7 linked regions of the Homo sapiens genome follow. The protein of the gene in region 3 purifies or fractionates together with the protein of the main gene of each other region. This does not show direct contact. Each region holds a gene or a part of one and is shown on either strand. Other genes may lie near its edges. The genes, in order: SDF4, LRBA, SLC20A2, MEIOC, ACOT9, MYEF2 and DSC2.

What was found.
Region 1: the proteins of SLC20A2 (region 3) and SDF4 purify together in Homo sapiens (affinity purification with mass spectrometry; one large-scale study listed by BioGRID and IntAct). This does not show direct contact.
Region 2: the proteins of SLC20A2 (region 3) and LRBA purify together in Homo sapiens (affinity purification with mass spectrometry; one large-scale study listed by BioGRID and IntAct). This does not show direct contact.
Region 4: the proteins of SLC20A2 (region 3) and MEIOC purify together in Homo sapiens (affinity purification with mass spectrometry; one large-scale study listed by BioGRID and IntAct). This does not show direct contact.
Region 5: the proteins of SLC20A2 (region 3) and ACOT9 purify together in Homo sapiens (affinity purification with mass spectrometry; one large-scale study listed by BioGRID and IntAct). This does not show direct contact.
Region 6: the proteins of SLC20A2 (region 3) and MYEF2 purify together in Homo sapiens (affinity purification with mass spectrometry; one large-scale study listed by BioGRID and IntAct). This does not show direct contact.
Region 7: the proteins of SLC20A2 (region 3) and DSC2 purify together in Homo sapiens (affinity purification with mass spectrometry; one large-scale study listed by BioGRID and IntAct). This does not show direct contact.

The regions. Positions count from the first base shown.
Region 1 is NC_000001.11:1,224,877-1,229,612, forward strand, and holds part of SDF4 (45 kDa calcium-binding protein isoform 2 precursor), read right to left. Parts: intron 4,071-4,736; 5' UTR 3,918-4,070; coding exon of another isoform or gene 3,897-3,917; coding exon 3,592-3,896; intron 1-3,591. UniProt on the Homo sapiens protein: May regulate calcium-dependent activities in the endoplasmic reticulum lumen or post-ER compartment. Isoform 5 may be involved in the exocytosis of zymogens by pancreatic acini.
Region 2 is NC_000004.12:150,843,696-150,848,431, forward strand, and holds part of LRBA (lipopolysaccharide-responsive and beige-like anchor protein), read right to left. Parts: intron 1,085-4,736; coding exon 963-1,084; intron 513-962; coding exon 405-512; intron 1-404. UniProt on the Homo sapiens protein: Involved in coupling signal transduction and vesicle trafficking to enable polarized secretion and/or membrane deposition of immune effector molecules. Involved in phagophore growth during mitophagy by regulating ATG9A trafficking to mitochondria.
Region 3 is NC_000008.11:42,418,071-42,421,934, forward strand, and holds part of SLC20A2 (sodium-dependent phosphate transporter 2), read right to left. Parts: intron 1-3,864. UniProt on the Homo sapiens protein: Sodium-phosphate symporter which preferentially transports the monovalent form of phosphate with a stoichiometry of two sodium ions per phosphate ion.
Region 4 is NC_000017.11:44,662,517-44,667,252, forward strand, and holds part of MEIOC (meiosis-specific coiled-coil domain-containing protein MEIOC), read left to right. Parts: intron 1-2,867; coding exon 2,868-2,972; intron 2,973-3,859; coding exon 3,860-4,736. UniProt on the Homo sapiens protein: Is required for meiosis completion in both male and female germ cells. Confers stability to numerous meiotic mRNAs in gonads allowing proper initiation and progression into meiosis prophase I.
Region 5 is NC_000023.11:23,700,555-23,702,915, forward strand, and holds the end of ACOT9 (acyl-coenzyme A thioesterase 9, mitochondrial isoform a precursor), read right to left. Parts: 3' UTR 501-2,361; downstream 1-500. UniProt on the Homo sapiens protein: Mitochondrial acyl-CoA thioesterase. Catalyzes the hydrolysis of acyl-CoAs into free fatty acids and coenzyme A (CoA), regulating their respective intracellular levels. Regulates both mitochondrial lipid and amino acid metabolism.
Region 6 is NC_000015.10:48,153,082-48,157,817, forward strand, and holds part of MYEF2 (myelin expression factor 2), read right to left. Parts: coding exon of another isoform or gene 4,699-4,736; exon of another isoform or gene 4,046-4,698; intron 813-4,045; coding exon 711-812; exon of another isoform or gene 1-710. UniProt on the Homo sapiens protein: Transcriptional repressor of the myelin basic protein gene (MBP). Binds to the proximal MB1 element 5'-TTGTCC-3' of the MBP promoter. Its binding to MB1 and function are inhibited by PURA.
Region 7 is NC_000018.10:31,092,379-31,097,114, reverse strand, and holds part of DSC2 (desmocollin-2 isoform Dsc2a preproprotein), read left to right. Parts: intron 1-3,471; coding exon 3,472-3,556; intron 3,557-4,736. UniProt on the Homo sapiens protein: A component of desmosome cell-cell junctions which are required for positive regulation of cellular adhesion.

The sequences.
Region 1 (4,736 bases), on a different chromosome or scaffold from region 3:
CACTCCAGCCTGGGCGGCATACCGAGACCCTGACTCAAAACAAGACAAAACAAAATCCTTCATATAAATTTAAGTTGTGAGATTTAGGAAGAAGACCGTGTGGGGACTTAACATTGTGTGCAAGGATGGAAGAGACCACAGACTTGGGGGATAGGGACACAGACTGGGGACACGGGGCCAGCGCAGGCCAGGTCAGGAGGCCACAGGCCCCAGGACAGGTCACTCCCGTCCCAGCTTCAGAGCTCGGCTTCACCATTATGTCTTTGTGGAAGCCACAGGCTCCTACCCCTGCTGCAGCCGCCCGTGTCCTGAGCTCACCTGTTGGAAACTTAACCCCCAGGGCAACAGCACTGGGAGGCAGGGCTTCCAGAGGTGCGAGGTCTTGAGACCCCGGCTGGTGCGTTTGCCGGAGGCATCCCCGAGAGTAGGGTGCCCTGGCCCCTTGCCTCTATGCTCCGCTCAGGGGCAGCCGCGGCCACGTTATGAGGTGGCAAGCAGGCCCTCGTCAGGCAGGTGTGGCCTCTGGGACCTGGGCCAGGCAAGCTTCGAGGGTGCACACACCGCAGGCACGGCTCAGAAGCACTGGGCAGAGATCCTCATGGAAGAAGGCCAGGCTGCCGCTCACACGCGCCCCTCCCTCAGCAGCCGCAGCAGCCCAGAGGTGGACGGGCCTGGGAGGCACCCTCAGCTCCACAGTCCCCAAAACACACCGGCTGGGGACGGGGCCACCCGGGTGGCCATGTGGCAGGTGGGGCACCTGGTGGGTCTCACGTGGACACGTGCATCCTCGAATGCTCCGGTCACGCTCCACACGCGCCACAGACACAGGCCACACGCTCCACACGCCACAGACACGGGCCACACACTCCACATGCCACAGACACGGGCCACACACTCCACACGCTCTACACACTCCACAGACACAGACACACACGAGGCAGAGCAAAAAGCAAAAAGGTGGAAAGAAACCACATGGCGCAGGATTCCAGTCAAGATGTCGGCAAGGAGTCACTCATCCAAACTCAGGTGCCTGAAGACACGGCTGCAGGGCGGTGCACGTACATGGAGCTGGCACGCACACACGCAAGTGCACAGGCCGGTACCCACGTGTACACAGCACACACACGTGAACAGGGCTGGCAGAACACAGATGTGACTGGGCTGGTGCACACACGCATGTTATCAAGTTCTGGCTCCTGAGAGAACAAGGGCAAGACGCCCAGTGCCCAGACCCTGGCTTCCAGCTCCAGCCACGGGAGACAGGGCTTCCTGGAAAGGCGGCAGCTATTGCACTGGGGCAGGTGGCACGGAGGCGAGCCCAGAGCATCTCACCGTGCCAGGAAGCGGGAAGGAAAGCCTGGAGCATCTCGTGGTGCAGGGAAGCGGGAAGGAAGTGAAGCTCAAAAGCCCCTAGGACAGGGCACCTCCCCTCTGGATGCTCTTTCCAGAAACCCTCAACCCTGTACGGTCAGGAGGAAACATGGCACCTCCCCTCTGGGGGCTCTTTCCAGAAACCCTCAACCCTGTACGGTCAGGAGAAAACACATCCCACAAGCCCAAACTGAGGGACAGCCTAAAACCTCCTACCCAGCCCTTCTCAGAACTGTTACGTCCTCACAAAAACGGGAGAGTCTGAGACACCGTTCCAGCCCAGAGGAGACAGAGGAGACAGGACAGCTGAGTGAACGTGGGTCCTGGAGGGACGGGGCCCTACGCAGGAGAAGGGCGAGAAGGGACCCGCGTGTGGGAAGGGAAGTCTAAACACCCACAGCGGCCGCTGTCGCCGCTCGGCGCAGGAGTCAGGGAGACCCGGAGACCTGCTGTTACTTCCCACTCCCCATGCCCACCTCCTCAAACGAGACAGCTTGGGGTTTCGTTACAGGCACCAAAAAGAAACCCCGGTCCAGCTGGAGACGCACCGAGCAGAAGCCTCAACTCCCCTCGCCCAGGCGTGCAGCCCACCCCCAGCACCGGCTGAGCAGGGACGGGGACCCTTCCCCTGTGATGCCGCGAGCCAGGCCTTCGTGAGCTCAGGGGTGGTGAACCTGACAGGCCCCAGGGGCACCAGCAGCCTCTTCGTGGGTTGGTCAGCTCACCACCAAGTGAACTCAGGCCACGCAAGGACCCCCGAACCGTACCATCTGAGGAGAGGTGCAAGGGGACACCACACCTGGTGCCCAGGTCCTCCAGCTGGCACCGTGCCTCCGTCCCACCAGCTCACCTGTGCTCCGCCCGAAAGCCTGGATCCTCAGGGCCCTCCCGCCTGGCCCTCAGCCCAAGGGCCGTGGCACAGCCAGACCAGTCCTCACACCTTTCCTACCTGCTCCTGCACCCCAGGACCCCAGCCCTGCCCAATCCCCTTGCTCACCAGCTTTGCCACCTGCCCCTCTGCACTGGTCCTGGAGCACCAGGCCCGGCGGGAAGGCGAGCTCGTGGCCAGGCCCTGCGGGAAGGCGAGCTCGTGGCCAGGCCCGGCGGGAAGGCGAGCTCGTGGCCAGGCCCGGCGGGAAGGCGAGCTCGTGGCCAGGCCCGGCGGGAAGGCGAGCTCGTGGCCAGGCCCTGCGGGAAGGCGAGCTCGTGGCCAGGCCCTGCGGGAAGGTGAGCTCGTGGCCAGGCCCTGCGGCGGGGGCTGCCTCCTTGTGCCCAGGTCTCGCAGGTCCCAGGAGGCCCAGGGTGTTCTCTCACCTGCACCTCGGCTCCCTGCCCGGCACCCTGGCTGGCCTGGGGGACTCACGGGCACGCCCTGACCCTGCTCTGCCTCCAGGGGTGAGGCCAGCGCTGAGTGCAAGTAGGTTCCAGGGCCACACCGCAGGGCACCCCGGCCGTGCCGTAAGGAGTAAGGCGCCCGTGCAGGACCTGGCTCCTTGTGGGTGAGTGGTCAGGTTGACCCATCTTGGACCCCTCACAACAGGCTCTCGAGACTCAGGGATGGGGTCGGGGGAGAAAGCTCGGCACTAGGCACAGAGGCAGCAAGAGGGTCTCGGGACTCAGCAGGGTGGGGGCAGTGACGGCCAAGGATGGGCCACTGACAGCACAGCTCTGCTCCCGACCAGGCCAGCAAAACAAGCCAACCCCACACACCCCCAGCCTGCGTGTGATACGCGGCCCGTGTGTGACAGGGACCCCAAACACACAGGGTAGAGGGCGTGTCAGGAGGAGCCCAGAGCACCCTGTACCAGCTCTCCAGCCACCTGTGGCAGCCCCTCACTCCTCAGCCAGGCCTCGTCCAACTGGGGCTGCAGCCTGCGGAGGCTGCCCGTGGCCGGCGTCTGCCCCTCAGCATGGAGGACGCTGACCACTGCAGTGCCGCGTGGGCTCCTCCAGGCTGTCCTAGGGACGGCCACACAGGCCCACTCTGGCCCTCTGAGCCCCCGGCGGACCCAGGGCATTCAAGGAGCGGCTCTGGGCTGCCAGCGCAGGCCTCCGCGCAAACACAGCAGGCTGGAAGTGGCGCTCATCACCGGCACGTCTTCCCAGCCCGGCAGGTCCCGACACAGGGCCCGGCGCCCCCCACCGCGCAAAGCCAGGATAGGAACACACAGGCGAGCGCACGCGGACAGCCCCCCAGTCTGGGCACATGGCGGCACCTACTTGGAAAAGATGACCATCAGCTTCCTCCGGCTCCGCCGCGGCTCCGCGTCCTCATCAAAGCCACCCAGGTCCTTGCCTAGGAAGACCTCCTGGTGGAAGCCGCGATTGAGGTGCCCGTCCATCTCCAGCTTCACCCCGTTCAGGTGGTCTGGGGGCAGGATCTCATTCTCCTCCCTGTTGGCTACTCTCTCTCGAGTGGACGAGTGGTTGGCAGGCCGTGCAGACGCGTCCATCAGAAGGACTGCCCCCAGGAGCCAGAGGCAGCACGGAGCCAGGCCAATGAGGGGACCCCACCTGGACGCCATCGCCACCCAGGGCCAGACCATGGGGCGGGCTGCAGGGTGTGGGCCAGGTGCTGGGAGGGGCAGGGGCAGGGGCAGAGGAGGAAGTGAGGTCCTGGCTCCAATCCAATCCCCGGGCACCACGGAGGGCTCTGTGTCCCCAGGACGGCCGCAGGATGGGGACAAGCAGCTCACAGTCTGCAGAGAGACACAGACACATCATTAGCAAGACTCAGCAAAGACTTCCCCAAGCACGTCTATCCTGCAACATGAAACATATCCTCGATTCACAGGATCCAGACATGTGGCATCGCCTTCTCCAGACCACACGTGGCACTGCCTTCTCCAGACCACACGTGGCATTGTTTTCTCCGGGCCACACGTGGCATTTGTTTTCTCTGGACCACACGTGGCATTTGTTTTCTCCGGACCACACGTGGTGTTTTTTTCTTTATTTTTAGAAACAGGGTCTTGCTCTGTCACCCAGGCTGGAGTACAGCGGTGACCACAGCTCACCGTGACCACGAACTCCTGGGCTCAGGTGATGCTCTGGGCTCAGGTGATGCTCTCGCCTCAGCCACCGGAGCAGCTGCGACCACAGGCGTGCACCCCCACGCCCAGTAATTTATTTTTATTTTACTCTTTGTAGAGACGGGTCTCGCTGTATTGCTCAGGCTGGTCTCAAACTCCTGGCTTCAAGCGATCCTCTTGCCTCAGTCTCCCAACGTGCTGGGATTACAGGCGTGAGCCACTGTGCCCGGTCTTTTTTTTACAGACACTGAGTTTTCAGCCCTGTCTCTCCGTCTTTCCATCTCTCTCTCGAGCTGTCAGCACCTCCAGGGGCTAACCTGTCCCCATCGCCCA
Region 2 (4,736 bases), on a different chromosome or scaffold from region 3:
CTGGGTTTGAATCCTGATTTTATCATTGTTTATCAACACTAGCTTGGAGATGTTACTCAAGCTTTATGTGCCTTAGATTATTCATCTATAAAATGGAAATTACAATAGTACAGCTCAATAAGTTGTTGGACTTAATTAATACATGTATATCACTTAGACTGCTTACTATGTAATAATGCATTATTCCTTTTAATATCACTATGCTGATCTGCTAGCTCGCTTTATATAAACTATCTTTTCTAATATTCTGTTTCTAAAATCATTGTCAAAAGAAGTCGTTTCTAGACCTTTCTATCTCTGCTCCACTATTTGATATCACAAAGAATTTTTAATCTCAATACATTAGGCCTAAGAGGAAATATGCATCAGTTAAGAGAGTATGTGAAAGACATATTGTAACTTACTATGTCTCTGAAAACAACTGCCCTAAGCCGATTAATATCCATGTCCTGTAGAAGCCTGTCAAGATCTCTTACTGGAGATATACCGCCAGTCACAATGTCCACTGGGCTCTATTTAAGATTAAAAAAAAATTGTATATATATATATTCATATATACATTACACAGATATTCTTTAAAAATAAACACAGTATTCCCAGAACCAGAAAAGCAAAGCTATAGCATTCCTTTCCCCACTTTTTTTGTGTGTATGCTTCCTTCTTCTTTGAGGGGTTGGGGAGAGAGGTGGAGAAAGATGGCATGCAGGAAAAAATGACATATTTGAAGGAAAAGGCATCACAGAAACAATCAAAGTAAACACTGGGAAAAGCAGAGAGGTTTAAATATAAACAAATCTTTATTGTGTATTTAAACACAAATATTTGAATGTTATATGCAGGCCTAAAGTAACTATTTTAATCTCTGCCAGATTTATTTAACTTTATGTTGAAATGAACAAATAAAAATCTTAATTGTAAAATAGGAGTATGCTTTTTGAAAATTAATTAATCTGTATACTTACCTTCGCTGCAGATTTCCCTAAAGGAATAAGGCTATGCATTGGTTTCAAGGCTTTATCTCCCCTAGTTTTCAGTTGTGAATGCTGTTGACACTCCAAGCAATTCCTTACTGCGACTGCACAAACTGTAATTTATTTTAAGGAAAAGATAGGGAAAGAAAAGTTAATATTTAAGATTATGGAAGTGAAAAACATCAACTACACAATATGATTTACATAAGATTTTATTCAAAACAGACGACATTCAGCTTATTCCTAAAATGTCCCTAGACTTTATCGCCTAGTGTTGGTTGTCTGATATTGTTAGCTTCCATGCTGTGGCCCAGTTAAGATTTAGGGAGGCAGTATGGCCTAGTGGTCTAAACGTTTAGGGTTTGCTGAAAGGAAATCAGTTCAGGAATCTTAACAATAGGCTACTATTTCTTAGATCTCAACTAAGCTAGCTGGGACAATCTTTAGTTAAGAAAAGGATAGGGAAGAAAAGAATTGAAAGAAATGGAAGAAAACAGGGAACAAAGTACATTACCATGAACTAGTCGAGGTAACAATCTTCTATTACCATCATTAAAGTAAATTAGTTAAACTGGAAACTTTGATGTTCTTCTTATATTGCATCATTACAGCATGATATTAATTGAGACTAATAGAGGATATAGCTTTTGAAAGAAGCTTTATAGGGTCCAGCATTTACTAGCTTTCATTAAAACTGCTTAGAAAATGGGAGACAGGAAAGGGAATTTGATTAATATACAGTCTAAAATTACCTAAGGCTCCCACGAATCAGGCAGTTAGATTACTTAGAAATTAATTTTGGATTTTAAATGATGAATTACATTATGTACCCTTCACTATGAATTGCTTGATACCATGTAATCATCTAAATTCCCTCCAAATCTGTAGCACTCAAGGTACTTGAACTGAGCAAAGGAGGGAGAGCAAATTAGGAACAAAATAGCAAACTTAAGGGGGGACTTCACAAAGAATCACTGGCCTATCACATGGCTAGCAGGCATGAGAATTTAGAAAGAAAGTGTTCTGAAAGGTGCCCAAAGAGAGCAATAAAAGTTGAAAGAAAGGAAGGAGGGAACAAGAGGAGGGAAGAGAGAATATGGAATACAGCTTTGTCAAATTTGCTATCAGACCCAAGAAATATTTTACTTTATCAAATTTGCTATCAGACCCAGGAAATACTTTTCATACAAACTTTTTCACAAGTTGCATAAAATCAAATTTGAGTCTGTATTACAAAGTTAAAAATCACACCTCATTTCCTGGTTTCAATCAGTTACTCTTACTGCTGTCATCCTAACTTCTAACTCCAACCTCAGGAAACAAGAATGAGGACACCAGTGTCCATCAACAGATAACTAGATAAAGAAACTGTGGTACATATACGCAATGAAATAATATTCAGCCGTAAAAAAGAAAGAAATCATGTCTTTTGCAGCAATATAGATGGAACTGGAGATCATTATCTTAAGTGAAACAAGTCAGACACAGAGAGACAAATATTGTATGTTCTCACTTATAAGTGGGAGCTAAATAGTGTGTACACATGGAAGTAGAGTGCGTAATGATTGAAAATGGAGACTCAGGCCAGCGGTGGGGGCTCACATCTGTAATCCCAGCACTTTGGGAGGCCGAGGCGGGGGGATCACAAGGTCAGGAGATCGAGACCATGCTGGTCAACATGGTGAAACCCCGTCTCTACTAAAAATGCAAAGAATTAGCCGGGTGTGGTGGGGCACACCTGTAGTCCCAGCTACTCAGGAGGCTGAGATAGGGCAATTGCTTGAACCCGGAAGAAAGAGGTTGCAGTGAGCCCAGATCTTGCCACTGCACTCCAGCCTGGCGACAGAGTAAGGCTCCATCTCCAAAAAAAAAAAAAGAAAGAAAATGGAGACTCAGAACTCAGAAGGATGAGGGGGTGAGGGGGGTCTGATGATGAGAAATTATTTAATGGTACAATGTGTGTTATTCATGTGATGAATACCCTAAAAGCTCTAACTTCACCACTAAGCAATCCATGTATGTAACAAAATTGCACTTGTACCCCATAAATTTACACAAATACAATTTAAAAAAAAGATATCACACATTTGGACTGTTACTTTGTTTACCATACTCTATTAAATGATCTTGGACAAGTCATTTTTTAAGTCCCATTTCCATATATAAGAACAGATGGTACTGGGGTGGATTAAATTATCTCTTAATTCTTTTCCGTGGCTATGAAAAACTAGGAACATAGAGTATTTCCCTAGCCTCTGAATCTGATGATTCTTGAGTAAGGCTTTGCTAGTATAGCCTTGCACTTTTACTTCTAGAAATGTACTCTTTCTAGGAAAGTGAAAAGCCTTCGAAAATGGCACACATAAAGCAATAAAGTCTAAATATTTTAATTATAATACTAATAGATTAAAGAAGTATACTACAATAGAAAGAGTAGGAGCACTAGTTAGACAAAAGTATAGTATTCAAATTCTACCTTCACCAATTATAGCTTTTTAGCTATAGATAAGTTTCCCAATTTCTTTTATCTTCAATTTCCTCATGAATAAAAAGAACAAAATTGTCACCGTGAAAATCAACAATGACAAATGACAATAGTCAATAAATGATAACTTTTATTTTGTTATGCTTACAATTAGAATGTCTCTTAAATTTTAAAACAACTGTCTATAAATTGTTATTCCAAGTTACTTAGAATAGCAAGATATACCATTGATTATTAAATATAAAATACTTGGAATTTTACATTTAAACTAATACTATTAAATACTTTGAATAGCATTTTGAGTAAAAATTATACTTGTGGCAAAAAGCACAGGTATACATTAGTTTATGTAACAGACATTCTTGCTAAATATGAAAAAATATGTCATTAACTACATTTTCCACTTCCATGTTATGTTTTCATAGGTGCTTTATCTCTTCATATGACCATGGCTCCTAATGGTTTGCTTCCATTTCTTGTGCCTTCTCTCCTCACCACCTTCTCTTCACTTAATAATCAAATCATTTAACAAAGTCTCGATATTTACAACTATATAGAAGGAAAATTATGCAAAAAAGGGTTTTTTTGTTTTGTTTTTTGCTTCACCTAAGAAGTCCAGTTAACATTAAAAAGTCATTTCATGTATTTTTACTTTTACTTAGGGAAGAAGTGTTTCCAGGAGAAGAACAGAGATTTCATGATTTTATTAACTGCATTAACAAATTACCACAGCTTTTTTGAATAAAGGCTGTACTTGAATGATGCTAGTTTAGAACGTTGTTATTCCAGTGTGTTTGTAAGAAAAGCAGCATCAACATCACCTGGGACTTGGTAGTCAATTTTAGGCCTTACCCTAGACCTCTATAACCCTTTTTTTTTTTGAGACAGAGTCCCGCTCAATTGCCCAGGCTGCAGTGCAGTGGTGTGATCTTGGCTCACTGCAATCTCCAACTTCCAGGTTCAAGCGATTCTGCTGCCTCAGCCTCCCAAGTAGCTGGGATTATAAGCGTGCACCACCACACCTGGTTAATTTTTGTATTTTTAGTAAAGACGGGGTTTCACCATGTTGGCCAGGCTGGTCTTGAACTCCTGACCTCAGGGGATCCACCCACTTTGGCCTCCCAAAGAGCTGGGATTACAGGTGTGAGCCACCACCCCAGCCTAGACCTATATAATCTAATCTGCATTTTAACAAGATCATCAAATTTATGAATCACCTTGTGTTTTTTAATCACCTTAAGTTTATGTATCTCCTTAAAATTTCAGAAGCACTACTTTAG
Region 3 (3,864 bases):
CCCAGTCCCCTACATTTGTTAAAGCTTTTAAAATAGCTTAGATTTTAGGTAGAATTGTTTGGGGATTCTTCTCTTCAGCATATAGCTCTTTATATAGTTGTTTTATATAGTTGTTTTGAGACAGTCTCACTCTTCACCCAGGCTGGAGTGCAGTGGTGTGATCTCAGCTTACTGCAACCTCCATCTCCCAGGTTCAAGCAATTCTCCTGCCTCAGCCTCCTGAGCAGCTGAGATTACAGGCGCATGCCATCACCCTTGGCTAATTTTCATATTTTTAGTAGAGACGGGGTTTCACCATGTTGGCCACGCTGATGTGGAACTCCTCACCTCAAGTGACCCTCCCTCCTTGGCCTCCCAAAGTGCTGGAGTACAGTGGTGCAATCTCAGCTCACTGCAAGCTATGTCTCCCAGGTTCAAGCGATTCTCCTGTCTCAGCCTCCTGAGTAGGTGGGATTACAGGCAAGCACCACCACATCCAGCTAATTTTCATATTTTTTAGTAGAGATGGGGTTTCGCCATGTTGGTCAGGCTGGTCTCAAACTCCTGGCCTCAAGTGATCGGCCCGCCTCAGCCTCCCAAAGTGCTGGGATTACAGGCGTGAGCCACTGTGCCCAGGTTGGATTTTGGCTTTAAAAATAATATTCCCGGCCGTGCGCGGTGGCTTCCGCCTGTAATCCCAGCACTTTGGGAGGCTGAGGTGGGCGGATCACGAGGTCAGGAGATGGAGACCATCCTGGCTAACACGGTGAAACCCCGTCTCTACTAAGAATACCAAAAATTAGCCAGGCGTGGTGGCAGGCGCCTGTAGTCCCAGCTACTTGGGAGGCTGAGGCGGGAGAATGGCGTGAACCTGGGAGGCGGAGCTTGCATTGAGCTTGCAGTGAGCGGAGATCATGCCACTGCACTCCAACCTGGGCGACAGAGAGAGACTCTGTCTCAAAAAAAAAAAAAAAAAAAAAAATTCCCTGAAATCGACTGTAGTTAACAGGGAACATTTAAAATGTATCTTGAAATAATTCAAAACTTAGAGAAAAGCTGCAAGAACTCCTGTTTTCTCTTTACCCAATTCACTATTTTTTGACATTTGCCACAATCTGTGAAGAGACTTTTTAATATGATTAAAATATCCTGCATCTTATCAAACCTCACTTTCCCCTTCTGCTAAAGATTTCACAATCCAATGTTTATGACGATGGCTATAAAATGGTGATTTACCAGGCCGGGCATGGTGGCTCACGCCTGTAATCTCAGCACTTCAGGAGGCCGAGGCGGGTGGATCACCTGAGGTCAGGAGTTCGAGACCAGCCTGACCAACATGGTGAAACCCTGTCTCTACTAAAAATAAAAAAAATTAGCCAGGTGTGGTGGTGCATACCTGGAATCCCAGCTACTCACTTGAACCTGGGAGGTGGAGGTTGCAGTGAGCCAAGATCGCGATACTGCACTCCAGCCTGGACAACAGAATGAGACTCAGTCTCAAAAAAAAATAAAATAAAAAATAAATAAAATAAAATGGTGATTTACCAAAGTCCATTGCAATTTCTCACATGGAGTTCTACTTCAAGGAAGAGCTCTTTCCTCTCCCAACGTGTTTTAGGACCTTAATACATAATGACAAATAGTTTTATAAATAGCTGTTAATGTAGTGTCATCCATAATCTGTGAATATCAGCACATGATATCATGTAAGTTGCTCTTTTTTTGGCTAATTAACCGACAAAAAGATGCACTGTTGCTGTTTTAATTTGCGTATCTTTAATTACAATTAAGGCTGAACTTTAAAAAATATATTTACTGAATTTCACTCTCTCTAGCTTTCACATATACAAATTGTCGGCCAGGTGCAGTGGCTCATGCTTGTAATCCCAGCACTTTGGGAGGCCAAGGCGGGCGGATACAAGGTCAGGAGATCAAGACCATGCTGGCTAACAGGGTGAAACCCCATCTCTACTAAAAATACAAAAAATTAGCTAGGCGTGGTGGTGCACACCTGTAGTCCCAGCTACTTGGGTGGCTGAGGCAGGAGAATCGCTTGAACTGGGGAGGTGGAGGTTGCAGTGAGCCGAGATGGCACCACTGCACTCCAGCCTGGGTGACAGAGTAAAACTCCGTCTCAAAAAAAAAAAAAAATTGTCTCTTCATGTATTTTGTCCATTTACATACTAAAATCTAATGTGTTCCTTATTTATTTATGTGTAGTCTTCACTGAATAATATTAACTCTGTGATATCGAATACACATTTTCTTAAGGTAGTATTTTGCTTTGTTTCACTTTCAAGTTTCTAACTTCATGCAATAAAATATGCTATAATTTTCTTCTGTGATTTATCCTTGGCTTGAATATTTGATAAATATTTAATTCCATTTTATTTTTCTAAAATAAAATTCCATTTTACTCTAAATTTAAGAATATTTTTAAAATATTATTTAAGCCATCAGATTTATGTTCATGTATTTTGAGAGTGGTCTAATTTTGTTTTTCTAGACTGACAGTCAGCTATTCAACCTTTCAAACACTTACTGGTTAAATTTTCCCTTTTTCAAAATACATGCTCATATAGAACAGGTTCCATCCATTGCTATCTACTCTGTTCTTATCCAGGTATCTACTTTTAAAAATTATTGTGGTAAGATATACATAACATAAAACTTACAGTTTTAGTAATTTTTCAGCATACCATTTAGAGGCATTAAGTACAATCACATTGTTTTGCAAACCATCACCACAATCTGTCTCCAGAACTTTTTCATCATCCCACGGGGAAACTGCCCCATAAAACACTAACACCCAGTTCTAGCCCCTCCTCCCAGGACCTACTCTTGACTTTTGTTTCCTTATATGACATTATACGTCAGGTAAGGCTAGTTCCTCCTTTCAGTTTTCTTGTTAGATCATTTTATATTGCTGATAATTTATTTCACCAAAATGTATTCTTTAGTCTCGTTTTGTAAAATTCCAAGTAAAATCCTGTTCAGGTTGTATTTAGGGAGAAGTGACTTCATTACAACATCTGGTTTTCCCATCCAATAGCACATTACGTCTCATATTCAGATTATCTTTTTATACCTCTGAGCAGTTTTGTGCCTCTTCCATATATATCACTCACATTTCTTTTTTAAAAAATTATTTATTTAGTTGTTTAGAGATGGGGTCTTACTATGTTGCCTAGACTGGTCTTGAACTCCTGGGTTCAGGCTGTCCTCGTACCTTCAGCCTCCTGAGTAGCTGGGACTATAAGAACACACCATGTGCCTGATGACACTCACAGTGCTTATTAGGATTATTCTGAGATAACTTTTATTTTTGCTGCAATTATGGTGGCAGTTTTTTTCCCTCCCGTTACATTTTCTAATTGGCTATTGCTGATGAACAAGTGCTGGATTTTTCTATTTTTACCTTGGACTTGGTCACTCTTACGAACTCTAGTAGTGTTTTAGAAATACTGAATATCGGCCGGGTGCGGTGGCTCATGCCTGTAATCCCAGCACTTTGGGAGGCCGAGGCGGGCAGATCACCTGAGGTCAGGAGTTCGAGACCAGCCTGACCAACATGGAGAAACCCCGTCTCTACTAAAAATACAAAATTAGCTGGGTGTGGTGCTGCACACCTGTAATCCCAGCTACTCGGGAGGCTGAGGCAGGAGAATTGCTTGAACCCGGGAGGTGGAGGTTGTGGTGAGCTGAGATCATGCCATTATGGCACTCCAGCCTGGGTAACGAGTGAAACTCCGTCTCAAAAAAAAAGAAATACTGAATATCATCAAATGTCTTTTTGGCTTATATCTCAACAGAGATCTTTTTTTTTTTAAGTGGATTGCTAAGGCATATTATACTGAAGCTGCCTATATACCCAACTTGAGCCCC
Region 4 (4,736 bases), on a different chromosome or scaffold from region 3:
AATTACATAGGAACTGAGGTTATTTGCTCTCTGTTCCCTACATTATCATTTTACTATTGTGGCATTTTGTGTTTTTCAAACTTTTAGGAAAGTGTAAACTGGGCAGTTATTTGTGTATAGTTTTTACGGTGTTTTGCTTTGTTTTGTTTTGTTGAGACAGGGTCTCGCTCTGTCACCCAGTCTGGAGTGCAGTGGCGAGATCATGGCTCACTACAACTTTGAACTCCTGGGCTCAAGCCATACTCCTGCCTCAGCCTCCACAGTAGCTGGGACTACAGGTATGCACCACGGTGGTCAGCTAACTTTAAAAAAATTTGTTGCCTTTTCTTTTTAAGAAACGAGGTCTCACTTTGTTGCCTAGGCTGGTCTTGAACTCCTGGCCTCAAACCATCCTCCCACCTTGGCCTCCCAAAGTGCTGGAATTACAGACATGAGCCTCTGCCCAGCTAGGTTATTACTTAAAAAAATTCATTAGTGGGAACATTTAGTGCATAAATCTTAAGTTCTTCTTTCTAAAGATGACTTATATGAATGAGTTAAAACTTTTAGATGTTTTTGTCATCCAGTTCTAAATTTTCCATTTTTTTCCTTCACAACTCTACAACAAACAGGGTTTTATCAAACATAAGATATTTTAAATTATTTTTCTGTTCAATTCCACAAATAATAAGGGCCCCCTGTACATCAGATGCTTTTCTATGGGGGATACCAGAATTTAAACATGGCAAATATTATCCTTGCCTTTATAATCTTGATGATGATGATGATGATGATGATGATGATGATGATGACGATAACTAGGATATTATGGGAGCCTATTGCAAAGAGGAGCCCTAAGGGAGTGACATCTATCTTTAATTATATATGGGAGCTATTTATAGAGGCTGATGCCTCATTAGTCTAACCAGGAAATAGTTATTTGTATTTATTAGAAAAGTGTTAAAAAATTAAAATTCTTGGCAAATTCTCTAAAATAATTTTATTAGAAAGTCTACGTAATACATAATTCTACAAAAAACAAAAATATTTTTAAAGTTGATACATGCTATTGAAAAAATTCAAGCCTATTCTCGCTTTTGGCTAAGATCAAGTGAAAAAATTCAAACTTTTCAGAAATATATATCAAGAAAAGTGAAAGTCTGTCTTAACCTTCTCCCCCCGCCACCCAATAACAGCTGCTAGCAGTTTGGTATATATTACATTGAATTTTTTTTAGATATATACTAATACATAATTACACAAAAAAGCTTTTATATTGAACTTTTATGAGATAACACATGTAGTAGAAAAGGTATTGGACTTACAGGGAGACTATTTAGCAAGTATGTAGTAGTTTGGCAAGTCATATACCCTTGCAAAATACAAGTTTCTTAATATCTCAAATGATCATTCATTTATTCAACAGATAATAACGAATGATTACTAATGCTTACCTTTCCAATGTTATGAAGATCAATTAAATATGAGTGTTATGCAAATATAAGGTATTTTATTTCAAAAATATCCCAACACTATGAAATGTTGAAATATGAAAAAACCGGAAGTTACAATTTATTATAAAACAATGTACAGGGCCGGGATTGGTGGCTCACGCCTGTAATCCCAGCACTTTGGGAAGCTGAGGTGGGCAGATCACAAGGTCAGGAGTTCGAGACCAGCCTGACCAACATGGTCAGGCTGAAAATACAAAAAAAAATTAGCCAGGCGTGGTGGCACGCGCCTGTAGTCCCAGCTACTTGGGAGGCTGAGGCAGGAGAACCGCTTGAACCTGGGAGGCGAAGGTTGCAGTGAGCAGAGATCGCGCCATTGCACTGCAGCCTGGGGAACAGAGCGAGACTCCATCTCAAAAATAAATAAATAAATAAATAAACAAACAAACCAACAAATAGATGTACAGGTTGAGCATCCCAATCTGAAAATCCGAAATCCAGACTGATCCAAAATCCAAAACTTTTTGAGTGCTGACATGATGCTCAAAACAAATGCTCATTGGAGCATTTCAGATTTTGGATTAGGGACGTTCAACCAAATATACAAGTATACATTATATATTTGGAGTATAATGTATATTTCCAGAATCCAAGAAAAAAACCTGAAATCCAAAACACCTCTGATCCCAAGCATTTTGGATAAGGAATACTCAACCTGTATTACTTCAAGGAAGAAATTACCCAAAAACTGTAACAGGTAAAAGGTACCAATCTTCCACGTGCTTGTGGTTTTTACATTTTGTATTTAGTCAGTATCAGTCACTAGGTGGATTTCTGGGATAAAAGGAACTCCATCCAGTCATGCTTTGCAAGCATTAGGGATGGCTCCCAAATCTGTTACATTTAAGCGACAACTGCAAAATTGCTGTGGTGTCTAGGATGACCATATCGCATTTCACTTTTTTATCCAATATTAATATAGAGTCACAAAAATAGAATAGAGCATCAGGTTCATATGGTTTTCAAATTGCAAATGAGGAAGCTGAGCAGGTGTTGATGGAATAATGTATAATAAGACAAGACTTGCTTTCAGGAGCAGCTATGATACCAAGCATGTCTGTGACATCATAGATGACAGATTTATATCTTGGTCACCTAAAATGAAAACCATGTGTTGTGGAGAAATAAGAGGTAAGCATGCACTGTAAGTTAGATATAGGATTTGAAATGAAGGAGAAATATTTATGTGGAAAAGACATTTCCACATAAAAATATTTATGTAGAAAAGAAAATATTCTTGAGTTCTAGTCTCTTCTTTATTTGAAATGATGGTGTAGATTCAGTCCACATATTTTATAGATAAAGATGGTAAGGTAGGATAAGTCTGGAAAGAGTAATCAATATATTGTATTTCAGCACGAATTCATTTATTTTTAGGATTCAAACAGAAAGAAATGACTATGGCAGTGAAACAGACTTATATGGACTTGTGTCTAACATTTTGGAAGAACAAGATAAGTCACAGCCATATTTTGCTGAAGGGTTAGTATATAATCTATATAGTATATAACAGGCTTTTAAACTAACATACACTAGTTTACCCTGTTTATTAACTTTTATTTTTACTTAATAGTGGATCATCTGACAGTAGGTATCTTAATTCAAATATTGTTTCAAGGAGACTTGATTTTGCTGAAGTATTTGCTATATAATTGGAAGTTCAGTCTAAGGTTTTGTATAAGGACTTTCATTGAAAAATTATTCTTGCATAATTCAGAGCTATTTCCCTTGAGTTCATGAACTAAAGATTGGCTTAAATAATATAAATTCAAAGGAACTTTTATACATAGATCCCAAAGAATAAAACTCATTACTACTATGCAGAAATACATATGGATTTTATTCATGTGTTAGAAAATTTTGTAATGTTTCAATTGTTTTATTGAAGTGTGGAAGCTATATTACCCAAATATACTATTTCATAAATAGGGAAGTATGTAGCACACATATAACCAATTAAAATATTTTAATTTCACAAAGTTTAAGCAAAACACATTTTTTTCATTAAAAAAAACTGTGGTCAACAATGCTTTTATGTAATAACCTAAGCAAAGGAAAAACTTATTTTCTGCTTACTATAGATAAATAATTCATCTAAGACCATGAAGTCACATATTAGGCCTTAGTTATTGTCTCTTGGGAAAGTACAGCGAAGACATTAAAATGCATATTTATGTAACATACAGCACATTTCATGTGACAGATAATTATCTGGAGCTAATGGTAGCTTATAAAGCAGAGTTGAAAGGGATTAGAGAATGGTGACATGGGGCAAGATAAATGTTTTTGAAGACCTTTTCTCCCTTTTCCACTGAAGAAATAAAGTCTTTAAAACCTAAGTTGTAATTAAATATATTTATTTGTTCTAGGACCTGCTCCTCCAATTTAAAGTCAGTTTGGCCAATGAACACAAGCAGATTTGCAGATCACCATGACCTCTTAACAGAAACCAAAAGGCCAATAGATACAGTCATCTCTCAGCAAGCTTTTTATAGTGATGAATCTGTGTCAGCAATGGAAAAGCAATACCTGCGTAACAGTAATCTCACACCACAACAAAAAATAGATGAACTTCATCATGGATTTACTGGTTTAGATCTTGAAGAACAATGGATGTACCCCTCACGAAGTGATCATTCTAACTGTCACAATATTCAGACAAATGATACAGCTAAGACAACATTCCAAGAATATCCACTTATCAAAAACTGTTTTACACCCCAAACTGGTCTGTCTGATATCATGAAAGAATCAGGAGTTGATATCTACCATTATGGAAGAGACAGAATATGTACTAAAGGTCTTGAAGCACCACTACAGCAAAAAAGGGCAGAGATGTTTCTTTCTCAATTTAATAGATACAATGAAAATGTAGATTATTGTAGATACCCAGAGTATGTTCATCCTAATAAGGCTAAGCTTAATAAATGTTCAAATTTTAGTGTCCAAGATAGCAAAAAATTAGCCAATGGCACACCTGAAACACCAACTGTAGAAGCAGACACCTACACAAAGTTATTTCAGGTTAAGCCAGCGAATCAGAAAAAAATGGAGGAGACAATCCCTGATCAGCAGAATTTCACATTTCCAAAAACTACGCCACATCTGACAGAGAAACAGTTTGCAAAGGAAGCAGTATTCACTGCTGATTTTGGCTTAACATCAGAATATGGACTAAAACCTCACACAGCTTGTCCCGCTAATGATTTTGCTAACGTCACAGAAAAGCAACAGTTTGCTAAACCT
Region 5 (2,361 bases), on a different chromosome or scaffold from region 3:
CAGCCGAGAGCTTTCTTGTTTTGCTTACTAAACTTTTGCTCCAACCTCACCCTTGTGTTCGTGCTCTGTGACACAAAGAACTCCGGATACTATCTCAGACAACCAAAGACTGCTACATTTTGGCGCACTGGTGAGACTACAACACCTTGCTAATTTTTGTATTTTTGTAGAAACAGGTTTTCACCGTGTTGCCCAGGCTGGTCTTGAACTCCTGACCTCAAGCAATCTGCCTTGGCCTCCCAAAGTGCTGGGATTACAGGTGTGAGCCACCACATCCAGCAGAAGGTCATTCTTCACCTATCAAAATGGCAAAGATATTTTAAAAAGAAAAGATAAAAATTGGCAAAGTTCAGGGAAATTGCTGATGTGTAAGTGATTGTGTGAAACTGTTCTGAAGGGTTACATGAAATACATATTCAAAGCCTTCAACGTGTGCCTACTATTTGACCTAAATATCTCATTTAATATTTTTCCAAAGAAAATAATTTAAGGGTCAAATGTTTTAGAGTATTTAGGATATTTACTGCAACATTGTTTATAATAGCAAAAAAGAAATACTAGAAAAAGCTTCACTGTACAGCAACAAATGGTTAAATATATAATGTATAATCTATACAATAGCATGCAGTAGGTCTCTTAACTCCACTTAACACATTCACAAAACTCCCCAGGGCGCATCCCTCCCCATTAGCCACCTCCCATCATGTCATAGGTAGATATGCAAAATGCTATATTGAAGGGCCAGGTAAATCTCAGTCAGGATGGCATTACGGCATGGAGAGACAAGTTATTATAGTACAGCACATGCTTGATTCCATGAGTCAAACTGCATGCTTCCAAGAGATAGTTGTGTTCGCTCCTGTGACTATTTCATGCCAGAGGTGCTTGTTGACACTGTGATTTCAATAAACATTACATAAACTAATATAAAAAAATTGCTTGAGACAGGGTCTTGCTGTCACCCAGACTGGAGTGCAGTGGCATGATCATAGCTCACTGCAGACTCAAACTCCTGGACTCAAGCAATCCACTCACCTCAGCCTCCTAACTGGGACTACAGGTGCACACCACCATGCTCAGATAATTTTTTAACTTTTTGTAGAGAAAGGGTCTCACTATGTTTCCCAGGCTGGTCTCAAGCGATCCTCCCATCTCAGTCTCCCAAAGTGCTGGGATTACAGGCATGAGCCACCACTGTGCCTGGCCTAAAAATTTTTTGTTAAAAATGCTTTCCACCGGCCGGGTGCAGTGGCTCATGCCTATAATCCCAGCACTTTGGGAGGCCAAGGTAGGTGGATCACCTGAGGTCAGGAATTTGAGACCAGCTGGCCAACATGGTGAAACCGCCTTTCTACTAAAAATACAAAAACTAGCCAGGCATGGGGGCTGACACCTGTAATCCTAGCTACTCAGGAGGCTGAGGCAGGAGAATCGCTTGAACCCGGGAGGTAGAGGTTGCAGTGAGCCAAGATCATGCCACTGCACTCCAGCTGGAGCGACAGAGTGAAACTCTGTCTCACACACACACACACACACAAAAATACTTTCCACCTAATTCTGAGGCAGAGCCAAGTTTGTGAACACTAATGTAGAACCCACAATAAATATTGCTTCCTTCTTGGGAGGACTTTTTTCAGAGATTATTTTTTCTTCTAAGTTACCTTCCTGTCAAAAAAGGAACGGTCTTGGCTACAGATTTTTTTTTTTTTTTTTTTTTGAGATGGAGTCTCGTTCTGTCACCCAGGCTGGAGTGCAGTGGCATGATCACAGCTCACTGCAACCTCTGCCTCCCAGGTTCAAGCAGTTCTCTGCCTCAGCCTCCCGAGTAGCTGGGATTACAGGCGTCCGCCACCACGCCCGGCTAATTTTTGTATTTTTAGTAGAAACGGGGTTTCACCATCTCGGCCAGGCTGGTCTTGAACTCCTGACCTCATGATCCATCCGCCTTGGCCTCCCAAAGTGCTGGGATTACAGGCATGAGCTACCGCGCCCGGCCTTGGCTGCAGATTAACGGGAATACCTCCCTTGGGCTTCCTAGGTGACACTGTGATATTCGGTATGACCTCCCTTGCTCTATTCCTTGGAAGAAGTACAGGCACTGGTCAAGAGTGCCCGGGACCCACATTGCCTGGTTTTGAATCCCAGCACCTCCACATGTTACGCGTCGGACCTCCAGGAAGTTACTTAAACTCTCTGTGCTTCAGTTTCCCGAGTGGCCTAACCCTAAGGGGGGTTACAGAACCTGCCTCATAGTGTTGATTGGAAGAAATAAAGGAGCTCAGACCTGCCAAGGGCTGAGGATGGTGCCTATCTAGCACATGGCAATGCTCCATAAGCATAAGCAGCTATTATTATTGTGGT
Region 6 (4,736 bases), on a different chromosome or scaffold from region 3:
TAACAGCAATATTAAGCCAAACATTAAAAAGATGTGTGGAAAGGTAAAACAATGCCACTCTCCTCACCAATTTCTTTTTTGCATTGAAAAATAGTTTATTTTCTTAAAACTTTTATGTATGTTAACATGTAATGAGTTTATCATTTTTTAATATGTAATTTTTTTAATTTCTAATTTTTCATTTATAATACAGTAAATACTGGTAATTATAACTACATAAACAAAGCATTTTCGGGTTCTCAACAAATTTTAAAATATAAAAGGGTCCTAACACCAAAGTTTAAAAACCAATCTCTAAAAATGAACTGTGAGTTCTTCCAGGTGAGCAGCCAAATAACTACCTGAAAAGCCACCTTCCCAAATGGATAAACAGATTTTAGCTGCCTATGATATGGTAGCATTTCAGCTACTCCATAAATACTGTTCATAGATGATATATTCTCCTTCTGCCTTCAAGACATTTCAAAATCCAAAATGCTAAAAGGCTAGCTACAACATAGCTGGCCCCAAAGAAACCCTCCTGACTTCTGCCTATCTCTTTCATGTTAGCTGTGCTCAAGGTTTCATTCCTTTTTCAGAATGAAGTGACACCGTAAATATCTAACTATTAATTAGAGTCCTTTAAACATTATTACAGACCACATCAATGGAGGCTTTATTAGCTAGCATATGTATCATTTAAAAAGAAAAGAGGAAGTTAGAATACTCACCACCTGGACCTAAATTTCCCATTACTCCACCTATGTTCAACTGGCTGGCACTAATAGGCTGTCCACCCGGACCAAGTCCCATCCCAATGCCTCCAAGACCACCTAAAACAAAAATGAGAACAATCATTACAAAGATCCATATATGATTAACTAATTGGCAATAAAATTTTTTAAAAAGCTATATACCTGTAGTAGTATCTGTAAAATTTCTGCAAATTTTCATATAAAAGCACTGGTTCTTGTTTTTGTCTAGAAAGTAGCACACTGAAGCCCGACTATAAAACCATTTATTAATGAGAAGTGTTTTATGAAATAAAACATGATATAATACAAAGTACACCTTATACCCCACTTAAAGGTACACTGAGAGGAATAATAAAATACCTAGAGGATTTTGAATAATATCATATCACCTTATATATGGCACACATATCTGAAAATGAGTATCTTGCCCAAATTTGTAGACCCACTTAAAATTTGATAATTACTTTTTAAATGGTTCAAATCAAACTAAAAAGTCAATAACCATGAAAGTATAACACTGAATAAGGCAAATATTATATTACCTAGTTTTCTCATTGATATAAATATTTATTTATATTTATATGGCACCTTAAGTGTTTCCACATCTATTGTCCATAGAAGAGGAAATTTTTGAGACCTTAGGTTGCTTGCATAATGACATGTAGCTGATTTTAAGACTTTGGTCTTTGCTGTCAAACTGCACAAACTGCACAGGAAGGACAGATTACTTATAAAGAAAGGACGATTCAACAAATAGCTGACTTAATAGCAACAGTGTAAACATGAAGACTGTAGAATACTTTCAAAGTGCTTAGAGAAAATAATTATCAATCTTTATACAAGTTAAACTATCTTTGAAAACATTTAAAACCCAAAATTGAGAGAATTTACTAATAAAAGATCCTCACTTAAAAGAGCTTCTAACATATATGCTTCAGGGGAAAAAAATTAGTGCCAGAGTCTATAAAAGCAGAGGAGTGATGACACAAGAAAATGGTAAATAACATTGTCTAATTTGCAGGACAGAAAAAAAAATAGTACAGAACTAATAATACAGAACTAAAATGCTGAGCAATGATAGTATAATTCAGTAGGAAAGTGACTGTATCCAAAGGTCACTCTACTATTACATAAAAGAATAATTATATTAACTTCAGGCTTCACAGAAATATTAAAATATCCAGAAGAATCCAAGATAGGAGTAAAATAAGTATTTGTAAGACAAAAAAATAAGACACAATATAATGGAAATTAATCCAAATGAACCAATACATGTGAAGAAATTGAACTCTTCAATTTCATGGTGAAAAAAACTATCAAAGTGATTTTTTTAAAAAGTCTAAGCCCAGCAATAACACCCTTTATAAGGGGCATGCCTGAAACAGTAAAAAAATAGGAAAAATGTACCAGGCAAGTACTAAACAAAATAAAGCTGCTGTACTTACATTAAAATGAGACCAAAGACTCAAAGTAACTACTAGAGAAAAAAAATCACCCAATAAAATTTTTAATTCACTAGGAAAATATATCAATTCTAATCTAGATGCACCTACTAAGCTAGCTTAAAAATATTTAAGTAAAAACAAGAAAAAGTAGACAAATCCACTATTCTATTGGGCAATTTTACCAGACACATAAGATAATAAGATAAACAGTGTTACAGCAGAAAAAGTATTGGATCTAAGACAATTTAAATGATTAGCAAACTTGATTTAATGAACACATATAGATCACTGCACTCACCAACTGTACCCAGAATACTTAAGAAAAATGTGCCATATGGTAGGCCATCCATAAGTCCAAATGAATTCCAAAGAATCACACTCACATATAAACCATGTTCTCTGACCACATTAAAATGAAAAAGTACAAAGGAAAAAAAAAAAAACTCATACATTTGGAAATTGAAAACTTCCATTTTCAAATAATACATGGCTCAATAAGAAATCATAATGGTAATTTTTTTTTTTTTTTTTTGAGACAGAGTCTCCCTCTGTCACCCAGGCTGGAGTGCAGGGGCACGATCTCAGCTCACTGCAACCTCTGCCTCCCAGGTTCAAGCAATTCTCCTGCCCTAGTCTCCTGAGTAACTGGGACTACAGGCATGCGCCACCATGCCTGGCTACTTTTTTTTGTATTTTTAGTAGAGACGGGGTTTCACCATGTTGACCAGGCTGATCTCGAACTCCTGACCTCAAGTGATCCACCTGCCTGGGCCTCCCAAAGTGCTGGGATTACAGGTGTTAGCCACCATGCCCGGCCCATAATGGTAATTTTTAAATACTCTAAAAACTGACCCATCATAAAAATGCTCCATAGCAAAACCCATGTACTAACTTTATAGTCATAAATGCTTATATTAGAAAGGAAAAGCTACCAATTTGAAGTAAGCATTCAACTTAAGGAGTTAGGACAAAAACACACTAAACCCCAATAAATAGAAGGAAAAAATAATAAGGCTAAGTGCAGAAATTAGAAATACAAAACATCCAAATTCAGTTATTTGAATACTCTATTAAAACCGACAAATTTCTAACAAAATTAACCAAGAAAAAAATAAAAATTGCATTCAGAATTTTTAAAACAGAAACATAGATGTAGCAAAAACTTAAGAGATAATTTAAGCCAAAATATTTGAAAATGAACAAAAACAGAAAAAATCCTTAGAAAAATAGAAATTACAAAAATTGACTCAAAAAAAAAAGACAGAAAATATAAACCATCAGTAGTTAAAAACTTCCCAGAAACAACAGAGGAAGGCCAGTTTTACACATAATTTCTAGCAAATATAAAGAGAACATATAATTCTGATAAAAAATAGCAAATACTTTCCAACTTAATACACAATAACTAAAAATTAAAATAACCTAAAAAACAGAAAAATGTATAAAATGTGGTATCAGCAGTTAAAATGAAGAAACTAGAGCTACATCTATCAACATAAATGAATCTCAAAAACAATTTAAAAAAAAAAGCAAGTTACATAATACATTATGATATCACTCAAACAAAATTTTAAATCCAACAAAACAATTCCCTATGTTTATGGATGTACAAATGTGTAGTCAAATTATTAAAACCTAAATGATAAATACTCTATCCATAAGTTGTTTCCTCTGGATAAGGCATAAGTTGAAAGATGGGCAAGGGAGATGGGGAAGCTCCATTTTACCATAAAATTTTATTTATTTTAAAGAAAAAAATCTACAACAAATATGGCATATGATAACTATATGAGTAATTTTACTTTTGTCTGTATATTTAAGATTTCTTATAAGAATACTTTAAAAACCAGAGAAGATGCAGTGAAATAGTAAAAACAATAGCTAATATTTATTGAGTGTTTACATTATGCCAAAATGATTCTAAGTGCTTTACATATATTAATTCATGTAATACTCATGTCAACCCCATGACGTAGACAATATTATTCTCCCCACTTTTCAAAGGAGGCACTGAGACACAGAGGCACTGAGACACATAATACAATAAGTATATTACACTGTTATAGTCATTTTGGAAAACAATTTGATAATACTAACCCATGAGAACTGTAAATCTACTTCAGAATATCTGTCTGAAGGAAGTACTCAAAAACATTACAAAGATTTGTGAACAAAAAGGCATGTGTTACTCTGTGGTTACTCAAAAGAAAAGTTAAAACACCTAAAATACAGAACAGTGAAATAGTTATGGAACATCTATATGATAGACTATTATACTACCAATAAAAATATTTGAAAAGAATCTTCAACATGAAAAAATGCTTATACTCTAATGTTAAACAAAAAATAATTCAAAATTATTTTTGTTCCCAACTATGTAAAAAATATACATAGCAGGCTAGAAGAAAATACACAAAAATGTTATAATGAGGTTACCCACAGATGGTGAAATTACAGAGGACTTTTTTTCCTTCAAGTGTATAAATTTACCAAACATTTTAGAATGTATTGCTGATTAGTCAGGAAAAGTTACCAAAGAGAAAAAAAAAATGGCACG
Region 7 (4,736 bases), on a different chromosome or scaffold from region 3:
GAGACAGGGTTTCACCGTGTTAGCCAGGATGGTCTCTATCTCCTGACCTCGTGATCTGCCCACCTCGGCCTCCCAAAGTGGAAATTTCTTGTATTATCTGACTGGTTTTGTTTATGGGTATGAAGACTAACCATATTTTCATGGTTATTTCTGCTTCCTTACTTAAGTCTCTTCTTGTTTTATAGTAATGTAATGGTTGATTTGCTTGGGTTTTCCAGGTAAACAGTCATATCAAATGCAGAGATTTTTTTTACATCTTCCTATCTAATATCCTTCTCTTGCAAATATACCTTCAATATAATGTAAACTACATATAGTGACCTTGGAGAGCCTGTCTTGTTTCTGAGTTTAATTGGATTGCTTCTAGTGTTTTCCCATTTGTGTTGTGTTATAATTTATAAAGATCACATTGCAAAAGTACTTATCAATTCTTATTTTTTGAGACTAAAAAAAATAAGAATGGTTATTGAATTTGGTCAAGTGCCTGTCAGCATCTATGATGGTGATCACATGTCAAGCCTTCGTTAAATTCATGGCTTGAAGTTTCTGGACCAAGCAAAAGATGTGAGTGTGGATCACAGATCCACGCCAGGGCCAGTTTACTTGTGGCTCAAATTTGTAATGAAGATTTAGCATTTGGGTCCCAGATTAATGTGGAGCGGATCCTCTTAGATCTTAGGTGGGCCCTGTGCTTTGATTTCATTCTCCTTCTCTCCAGAGGCCAGCAAAGCAGAGTCAAATCTTTGCAGATCAGAAGTTGTTCCTGAGTTCCTCTTATCACTGTGTGTTCCAGCTTTATCTTCAGTTTTGGCCTAGCAATTGCTTGCTATTTTGTTAGCTCTTTGATGCTTTAGGATGTTTGAAAAATGTTATCCCTGATTTTTAATTAGTTTTGGCATAGGTTTTTCTTAATTACCTAGCTTGTTATTATTGAAAATGACAGTTTTTTCCATTCTCCACATTGGACAGATCTATCACATTCAAATATAAAGCTGCTTATTTAATTTATTTGCTCCAAGTAAATCTTTGGTTTCTCATTCTCGTTAGGAAAAAAGATCCATGTGCTTTGCTAATGCCGTTCAAAATCTGGCCCACACCCACTTCTTTGAGCCCATGTTATACCTCTGCCCCCGCTCTGGTACACACATCAACCATTCCAGATTTCTTCTTCAGGTCTGTGCCATCTCTGGGCCTTCACATATGCCATTCTTCTGTTTGCAGCATTTAAGCTCTGCCTCCTCTTAGCCTGTCTCACTTGTAGCCGCTCTTCAGGTGACCTCACCTGGCTTTTAGATATCACTATTACCTCTGCTCTCCCATAGCTCCCTGTACTTCCCTATCATTACATTTGTCTTACTTTGTTGAAATTACAAATATGTCTTACCTTAGATTGAATGTTTCATGAGGATCATGTTTACTGCTCTGTGTGTGGTACATGATACACATTCAGTAAATATTTGTTGAATTCATGCATGAATGGATGGATGTCCAAGATACTGTTATTCAAAGAATTGTCTTAATCCAACCATTTTTCATCTTCTCCAACATTATTACCTTAGCCCAAGTAACCATTACCCCACTCTTAGATTCCTGCTGTAGTCTCCCAATCAGTCTCTTGGTTTCCACTCTTGCTCTTCTATAACCTATTTTCCACATAACTAGTAGAGTGATTCTGTATAAATATCAGTTTACGCCACTCCACAGCTTCTTCATCAGGCTGTTGCTTCTCTTTGCACTCAGAACAAAATCTGCACTCCTTACCATGACCTTTTAGACCCTACATCATTTGCCATTGACTGTCCTTTTGTTTTCTTCTCCTGTCACTCTTCCCTCGCTGTGCTCTGCTGCTATGACCACCTTGTTTCTGCAATACACAAGTCTCCTTCCAGGGTCTTTACTCTGGTTCTTGCCCTACCTGGAAGACTCTTCCCTGGTTAGAAAACTGGTTTACTTCCTCACTTCATTTACGCTCAGGTATTCTCGTTGTCACCCTCTCTCCCTGCTTTATTTTTGTCGTGACATTTATCTCTCGCTGCCTTGGCATTATGTGACATTTGTGCATTTGTGTATTTCTTTTGCTTCTTATTATCATGTAATCTTCGTGAGGCAAGGACTTGGCTTTGTTCACTGCTCTAGCCATTGAATCCGTTTAGCACCTACTAAGCAACCAGTAAATGTTGGTTGAATGAATAAGTGAATGTATTCTTCCAATCACCTTGAGCTGGAATCTTCAGAATCATCTGATTCTACTCCTATTCTCTCTTGGCTATGCAGCCAGTGAAAATTCTTCATATCATTTAATTTCCAGTTCAAAACTAATGTCTTCATTGTGTCTATCCCAACATTCCAAATGAAACACAACCTCTGCCTTATTTGATCCTTCAAATGTAATTAAAACTGGATAATTTAAGTCTTTAATATATATTAAAAATAAACATTTCCATCCAAATTTTGATGATTTTAGTTTATATTTATAAACTTTGTAAGTAACAGTGTAAATGCTAGTTAACTGTCTTGCTTTTGGTCAAAGATGTTTGTAAAACTAGAAAAAAAGAATGTGAATCTTTGAGAAACATCCATTGTAAAGTTTCAGACAGAACAAAATTAAATTTCAGTGTGTTTACGTATATGTTGCATTGGACTTGGTTCACCATGAATCACTAAACCATTGAAAATTTTTAAGTAAATTATTTTCTAAAATGAACTTAACTTTTATTTATGAGAAGATACACCTTCAAAATAATTTTATATTTCAAAGTTATGTGCCTATTGTGTGGAGTAACACATAAATATTCTCCAAATCACTTCATGGCAATAAGTTAATGTTTGTCTTTAAAAGCATTTACTTTTTGTTTAGGATATTATTGATTTGATATCATATCTCATAAGCAATTAAAAATGTACTGAAACAGTTTGCTGCCTCAGTAAATTTGGTTTTCTCTTTCCTATGTATATACCTGTGCTGCCTTCCTGATAGTTTTCAGCACTCTCCCACCTAGGCTGTTGTTGGATCGTCACTGTACCCACTGAGTTAATCAGTGAAGTTATTACATACGTTTTACAATATAGTAAACAAAGCTGAAGAGCATACATAACTCTTTGAGTTTACAAGCTTTTTGCAGGAGGAAGCTAGAACTCAGTATATTGTTTTATTCTTCTCCTTGATATATTTTTGTCCTGATTTCTTTCTCCAATATGTTTTTATTTTATCTCCAATATTTTATTTATGTTTTATTTATAATAACATAAATCACATATAATTATAAATATAAATTCATGTATTTATATTTAATTAAATATTTTAAAATTAATATTTAGTGTAGTCAATATGTAATATAATTAACATTTATATAAGTATTATATGCCTTTTTATGTGTATATCATTATAAATTTATAATTTATATAAATAATATACACATTAAAGTTTTCTTTTTATGCATAATATTTATTTGATTTTTTTTCATTTTTTAGATCTTAATATTTGCCAGTGATGCCTGCAAAAATGTGACATTACATGTTCCCTCCAAACTAGATGCCGAGAAACTTGTTGGTAGAGGTAAGGAAGCCCTAAAATTTGTAATAAATCCTGTTTTGCTGTGGTACATATACGCCATGGAATACTACACAGCCATAAAAAGGAACGAGATCTTGTCCCTTGGAAGGGATGTGGATGGAGCTGGAAGCAATTATTCTCAGCAAACTAACACAGGAATAGAAAATCAAACACTGCATGTTCTCACTTATAAGTGGGAGCTGAGCAATGTGAACATGTAGGCACAGAGTGGGGAACAACACAAGTGGGGCTTGTTGGGGGTTCTGGGAGGGCGAGAGCATCAGGAAAAATAGCTAATGCATGCTGAGTTTAATACCTAGGTGATGGGTTGATAGGTGCAGCAAACCAACATGGCATGTGTTTACCTATGTAACAAACCTGCACATCCTGCACATGTACCCTGAAACTTAAAATAAAAACACACATACAAAATAAATCCTGATTTGCTGTGGTATTTTAAAATTAGTGTAATTTTTAGAATGATAACTCTGTTGGGACCAGTAGATAAAACTAATGTAGTATATTATCATTTGTAATATTTGTGGTGTCATTCTAATGAAAGGAATATTGTTATTTTTGGAAAACATGATTATATGAAGTTGATAAAAATATTTCACTTGAGTAATAATTATTAACATTTACTTTAGAGAAAAGATAAAGACATTTAACATGCCTCTAAAAAATTGAGAAATAGTACTGAAACTGTTTTTTTTAGTTTAAAGATACTGTTTTTGGATTTTTATTCTTAAATATTTCACTCTGTATTGTATTTTTTTATCAATTAAATTATTTCACATAATTCTGTAAGAAAAGATCAATCCAATGATAGCATAAAATGTGATCACTGTTTAGCAATAGATGTAAAGAATTTAGTAATATTTTCATTTAGCAAATGCCAATTTTCATCTGCTAGATTCTGTATAACTTCAGGTGTATTTAGGTGTTACTCTATAGCTTATTTCTGTTGATAAAGAAAAAAATTGTTTTGGTTTTGGTTTAAAGATTCAAACACTGGAGCTCACATATGTTTACTTCAGAGCAAATGTCTCTTCTTTAAGAGAATGTTAAGTAGGTATTAGAAGTGATGTAAGTATTTAAGCACAACTTAATTCACCATATAGTTTTATGTGTCCTTTCAAAAATTTACAAGTGTCAGTATAATGAATTTTAAGTTTTTGGCTCT